Linked DNA regions of Homo sapiens. Changing the gene in region 1 together with any one later gene gives a genetic interaction. Each region holds a gene or a part of one and is shown in the gene's direction. Other genes may lie near its edges.

Region 1 (3,500 bases):
AAAGGAGGAAAGAACTGAAGAGATTTTCATTGTACAAAGAGCAGAAACAGAATCTGCTCAAAAGAACTGTAGAAGCCGGTTGAAAAAATGTTAAACAATGAGTAATTGTGTAAAAACTTGAGAGTATATGTTTGTCTTTGTGACACATGAAACGTTTCAATTTTAAGCTTACATGGGATTTTTAAGTGAGAGGAAGAAACAGATCCTGGTATACATAGGTGGGGAAACTTACAGATATGAAAACATTTTGATAAAAAGCTAACTTGATTGGTACAGAGCTAAAAAGGTGTGTAAAACAGGCTTTTTAAAAAACTTACATTTAGGTTATAATTTTTGCCTAGATTAATATTTGGGTCTCCTCTCCCCTAGATGCAATATAAGTGACCAACTTTGCTGGTGTTTCCTGCCTACCCATCTCCCACATTCTTTTACATGAGAACTAGACAGAGAATCAATGATAATTGATTTTGTTACTTAACCTAGGTAGCCTTAACATCATAACATTTCTTTCTGCATTTTAAGTCTAGTGATAGATATTCAGTGAATGATTCTCATTAATGAGCTAACTAATAATCATTGTTGAAAGCATGTAATTGCAGTAATGCAGTAGTGTTAAATGTTTATGATTTGCTTTCTTTTTGTAGAACACAAAGTAATTATAGTGGGACTGGATAATGCAGGGAAAACCACCATTCTTTACCAATTGTAAGTATGGGTGTTTATTAAACAGTTTTCACTAGTTATTGAAACTAATGTGTTTACAATTAATAAGAGATGCATTATAATAATGACGGAAAAACTTAAATATATGTTTTTTGTTTTTTGTTTTTTTAATTTTACCGAACACAATCTATAGAAAAGTGAGTGAAATAAACATTTGCTAAACCCTTCACAAACACTTATTGTTTTCTGCCCTCGAAAGAAAGAAATTAATATTAAATAAATAAAGCGCATATTAGAAGTGCTGGGGTGAGGTGATAAAGTGGATTTCACTTAGTTCTTACCCCACTTGGGTTTATGTAAATAAATTGATAGCTCTAGGAAGCCATTGCTACCCTCCTGACTAATAGCTTTGGAATTTTTTAACATAGCCAGACTTGTCAAAAGAAATGTGATCACTCCTGAAAATATTGCTGTAGTAGCTTGCAAGAGGGAGAGTCTTGAGACTTTCAGAGAAATCTGTTAATACCTTAGGAAATTTTCACAGCTCATCATTCCACTTGTCAGAGTACCTTCCATTATCCTTTCAATGCCAATGAAATGATAGTATTAAGCAGTAGAAGTGGATCTACCAGGCACTTTAACAAAATAGTTCTACAGTTCTTTGCCCCATTGTGTGGCTCTTACCTCTTCCCACTCATGTTGCATTAGAAGACAGCCATCAGCTCACCAGAAGTACTTCATTAGCCAGTGATTAACGCATTTTTCAGCTACTTTGCTAAAAAGCTACTGACTTAAAGTTTGTTGTTTCAGAGTTGAACAACTACTTGTTTCTCTTGAAAACATTTTCATTCATTGGTGATTATGTGTTTAAATATGAATTAGCTTTTAAACATCACATATAAACATTTCAGAAACCTGTCATCTTTGTTGAAATAATTTTACACATGGCTTCAAAAATATACATAAAACCCAAGAGAATTGCAAGCCTCCTCCAACACAGTAGTGACATGTTACTGGCAAGGGCATATTTGTTGAATTAATTGATTAATGTAGCTTTACCAATGATTATGATAATACGAGGGGTATGAGCATCAGTATTCTAAATATATATATATATATATACACACACACACAAACACACACACACACATATTTGAGACAGAGTTTTGCTCTGTTTCTAAGGGTGGAGTGCAATGGCGTGATCTCCACCTCCCAGGTTCAGGCGGTTCTCCTGCCTCAGCTTCCAGAGTAGCTGGGATTACAAGCGCCCACCACCACGCCCTGCAAATTTTTGTATTTTTAGTAGAGACGAGGCTTCACCATGTTGGTCAGGATGGTCTCAAGTTCTTGACCTCAGGTGATCCACCCAAAGTGCTAGAATTATAGGTGTGAGCCACCACACCTGGCCTTCTAAATATATCTATAGTTAATTTAAATTTTTACTTGCCCATGGTCATCTTTTTAGGACTACTTTAGATTAATATGCCTGAATTAATTTTTGTGACTAAGTCTCAATTTAGACAGTCTTCAAAATTATAGATAGCCTGCTATCCAATATTTGCTATTTTGCAATCACCTAGAAACTTGCTTTTCAGGATGGCATGGGACATTGGGTCTTATCTAACTGATAACAGGGCATGGTGGTATTGGAATTTTTGGCCACAGAAATGCAAATTCACACCACACTGTTTCCTTTCTTTTCCATCAAGCTTGCAATTCCTTCCGTTAAAAAAAAAAACAAACAAGAAACAAGTCTTTCTTCTGGAGTTGTTATCTAGATATTGATTTGCGCAAGTGTTCTCCAGGTTTATAATTTTCATGCTAATGATCACCATCATTGGTGCAGAAGGTTGATTGATCTTAAAAATACAGAGATAAAAGTTGCTTCAGATTCTCAAGATTTACAAGAGCTTTTACGGTGTCTGTTTTTCAACAGCTTAATGAATGAAGTGGTTCATACTTCTCCAACCATAGGAAGCAATGTTGAAGAAATAGTTGTGAAGAACACTCATTTTCTTATGTGGGATATTGGTGGTCAGGAGTCTCTGCGATCATCCTGGAACACATATTACTCAAATACAGAGGTATGCTAAGATGAATTTTGAATTTTAATCCAAAGGTCCCTAGAGTAAACATAGAAAGTAATTAGGCTGCACCTGGGCGTATTGACAGTTGCCTTTTTTTTTTTTTTTTTTAAGACGGAGTCTTGCTCTGTCGCCAGGCTAGAGTGCAGTGGAGTGATCTTGGCTCGCTGCAAGCTCCGCCTGCTGAGTTCAAGCCATTCTCCTGCCTCAGCCTCCCAAATAGCAGGAATTACAGGCGAGTGCCACCACACCCGGCTAATTTTTGTATGTTTAGTAGAGACCGGGGTTTCACCATATTGATCAGGTTGGTCTTGAATTCGGGACCTCGTGATCCACCCTCCTTGGCCTCCCAAAGTGCTGGGATTACAGGCTTGAGCCACCGTGGCCGGCCTTTTAATAAGATCCTTTTTTGTAGGGAATTTGGGTTTCCTTTTTTTAAAAAATAAATAAATAAAAATTTCATAAATGAGACTTAAGAATTTGGGTTTTCGAATAAAAGAAAAGGCAAATAGAAAGATTGTTTGGAGCTATTATTACTTGAGTGCTTACTGTTTGGCCAGGTTCTCTCCATTCATCTTCACAAGATTTTCATGTCTCCAGGGTTGGAGAGATCTGACACGTGGAGATATTATGTAGGTTTCCCCAAGATCTCACAACTTTCTAAGAGACCCTGACCGGTGGAGGAATAAAATATTTTATTAATTTAAAAATTTTTTATACCATGAACATTCAAAATGTTGGTAGATTTTTTTT
Region 2 (3,500 bases), on another chromosome or scaffold:
TCCAGCCTGGCGACAGAGCAAGACTCCGTCTCAAAAAATAATAATAAAATAAAAATTAAAAATAATTTTTAAAAAAGAATCTTTCCTTTTTCTTTTTCCTCTTTTATATATTCTCTTTTGTCTTTTTCCACATTGTCTGAACTTTTAAGAATCTTTTAATTCACTTTGTTATTTTTGCCTAGCATATTACGAGGAAGTAATTGAGGTTTAAAAGATTTATTATTTAAATTTTTTGCCTTAAGATTATATTATAAAGTTAATTTGAAATCTAAATTGCATTTTTAAATCTAAATTACAATTTTTAAAACCCTTTCCCCATTAATAAGCAGTATATATTGCTTACTTTTTTTTAATTCTGTAAAGAAATGTGATTTTTAAAACAAATTAATATGTTTAGGGAACAATTTATATTGAAATTTAACCAGGTGTTATAGTATCAAAAACCAATAAAACCTGCATTATAATCTTATGTAATTGGAATCTTATATTTTGACCATATAAAAATCAACTTTTTTGTTTTAAACTTTCATACTTTATTTTAAAACAATGTAATTGTAGAAAAGATCTTAGCCTGCTACTTGCAAATACTTCACAAACATTGTAGTTGTGCAGAGTCTTACATCCCAATAAGTTAAAAGCCAAAGTGAATATAATTAACTTTATTTTCTCTTGCATGTTAATTTTTAAAGGAATAGACACATTTAATGCTCTATATAGGAATTTTGATCAGGCCAGGCGCAGTGGCTCATGCCTGTAATCCTAACACTTTGGGAGGCCAAGCCAGGTGGATCAGTTGAGGTCAGGAGTTCGAGACCAGCCTGGCCAACATGGTGAAACCCCGTCTCTGCTACAATTACAAAAAATTAGCTGGGTATGGTGGCACAAACCTGTAATCTCAGCTACTTGGGAGGCTGAGACAGGAGAATTGCTTGAACCCAGGAGACGGAGGTTACAGTGAGCCAAGATTGTGCCATTGCACTCCAGCCTGGGCAACAGAGTGAGACTTAATCTCAAAAAAAAAAAAAAAGAATTTTGAGCAAATGAATACAATTTATAGACAAGCAGCTTGATGTGAGTTTGCAGAATTATAATCAATTTTATGTTGTGTTTCAACATCTGTGTCCTTTATATTCTTTATCTTAATTGGCCAAAATGCAGCTGGTTAATATTTAATATTATACACATATTATTAAATAATATATGATTCCCGATCATTGTATTTAATTTATCTCTTTTGTCTCCAGCCCTTACCCACCAACATAAGCACACTTAACCTAGACTTCAATATGCAGTAGACGCAGTAAATAAACAAATCAATGGGTGAATGCTTATTACTTTTTTCCTTAAGCAACTCTCCTCATATTTTGTTTGCTTGTTCTTCATTTTCTAGGAGAATGTGGATTATATTATTCAGGAGCTCCGAAGACCCAAATACACTATATATTTCATTTGTAAGTATGTTAGTTCACTTTTTCAAACATGTAACAACATCCCAGTTAGTGTGTTTCATTGAGCCCTTCATATCATCAATAACTTCATTGAATCTGTCACTATAAAAGTCTAGTTTATTTAATGTCCTTCCAAAGTATTAAAAATCTTTTGACCTGCCGGGCGCGGTGGCTCACACCTGTAATCCCAGCACTTTGGGAGGCCAAGGCGGGCGGATCATCTGAGGAGTTTGAGACCAGCCTGACCAACATGGTGAAACCCCATCTCTACTAAAAATACAAGATTAGCTGGGCATGGTGGCACATGCCTGTAATCCCAGCTACTTGGGAGGCTGAGGCAGGAGAATCGCTTGAACCGGAGAGGCGGAGATTGCAGTGAGCCGAGATTGCGCCATTGCACTCCAGCCTGGGCAACAAAGCGAAACTCCATCTCAAAAAAAAAAAAAATACTTTTGACCAATATTCTGTTTCAGAGGGCTAAATGTGATTTCCATTCATCTTTGATTGCTTAAATTAAAAATTTTACATTTTACTTTGCCTTTCAAGATGCTTTGTAAGTCAAAAGTTTTAAGTAGACAAATTTCACATCTCACCCCTGCCAAAAAAAAAAAGTATATACTTATCCCTGTTTTACACTTAAAAATTGAGGCATGGAAGCTGATTTATTTTTTGAAGTGGGAAGGTAATACTTGAGTTTGCTGGAAAAGCAGAAATTTACTTTACATACCAGATAAAAGCCTTTCACTTCTCTTTGTTACTATATTTAATGCACTGAAAGTATAAATCATCAGGTAGTGATCTCTTATGTGCACAACTTTCTTGGAGTGGGGGTTAGGTAGGGGAGATCTGGAAATAAACTAGGTTTGTGTTTACTATACAATTTACATGGATTTTTTTGATCCAATACATTCGGCTGTAGAAGTTACATCTATTCTCCTCTAGATGTCATTATTTATCTTTATGTTAATAGTGTTAGTGTAGTCTATTTGGTAACATTTCCAAAACCAAGGACTAGATTTAACAGTAAGTAGGGCATTTGAGAAGTTTTAAAGCTTACTTAAAGGTATTAGAGTTTTAGGGTTTAGACTACAGTCTAAGACGTACATACTTTCTTCAGCGTATACTACTTAAATAGAATAATGATACAAAAAATTAACATTTGCGAAAAGACTATATATATATAAGAGCTCTCTCATATTTTATTTCATTCAGTTCTGTGTAGAATTGAAAAGTTACATAAAGCTTGTCCAGTGGGTTTTCAGTGCACGACGCCCCAAGAGGTAAAAATAGGCAATTTTATTAATCTGTGGCAACTTAATTTTTGTTTGTTTTTGTCTGTTTGTTTTTGGCTAATAGTCACAGGTTTTCTTTTTAAAATTAAACTTTCTATTTTGAAGTAATTGTAGATTCATGTGCAGTTAAAAAAAAAACAACGAATAATAATACAGAGATCCCAGATACCCTTTACCCAGCTTCCCCCTGTGTAGTATCTTACATGATGATAGTACAATATCACAACCAAGATGTTAACACTGATACAGTCAGGATACACAACATTTTCATCTCTATAAGGATCCCTTTTATTAGCTTATATGGACTTCTGTCCCACCCCAACCCCCTCATTAACCCTGGTAACCACTAATATTTTCTCCATTTTATATTTTGTCATTCGAAGAATGTTCTATAAATGAAATCATACAGCATATAATCTTTTGGGACTGGCTTTTTTCACTCAGCATAATTCTCTGGAGAGTCATCCAGGCTGTTCTGTGTGTGTGTGTGTGTTGTTTTTGTTTTTTTTTTTTGTCCGAGAAGCAGTCTTGCTTTGTCACCCAGGCTGGAGTGCAGTGTCGCCATCTCAACTCACTGCAACCTCCACCTCCCGGGTTCAAGCGATTCTCCCACCTCAGCCTCCCGAGTAGCTAGGATTACAGGTACACACCACCACGCCCAGCTAATTTTTGTATTTTTTTTTAGTAGAGACAGGGTTTCACCGTGTTGGTTGTCCAGACTGGTCTCAAACTCCTGACCTTGGGTGATACGCCCGCTTCA

What was found. A genetic interaction does not mean that the proteins touch.
Region 2: changes in ARL5B (region 1) and VPS45 together harm fitness less than expected from each alone (positive genetic interaction), as found in Homo sapiens cells (one large-scale study listed by BioGRID).

The regions. Positions count from the first base shown.
Region 1 is NC_000010.11:18,665,931-18,669,430, forward strand, and holds part of ARL5B (ADP-ribosylation factor-like protein 5B), read left to right. Parts: intron 1-644; coding exon 645-705; intron 706-2,599; coding exon 2,600-2,747; intron 2,748-3,500.
Region 2 is NC_000001.11:150,070,776-150,074,275, forward strand, and holds part of VPS45 (vacuolar protein sorting-associated protein 45), read left to right. Parts: intron 1-1,390; coding exon 1,391-1,451; intron 1,452-3,500. UniProt on the Homo sapiens protein: May play a role in vesicle-mediated protein trafficking from the Golgi stack through the trans-Golgi network.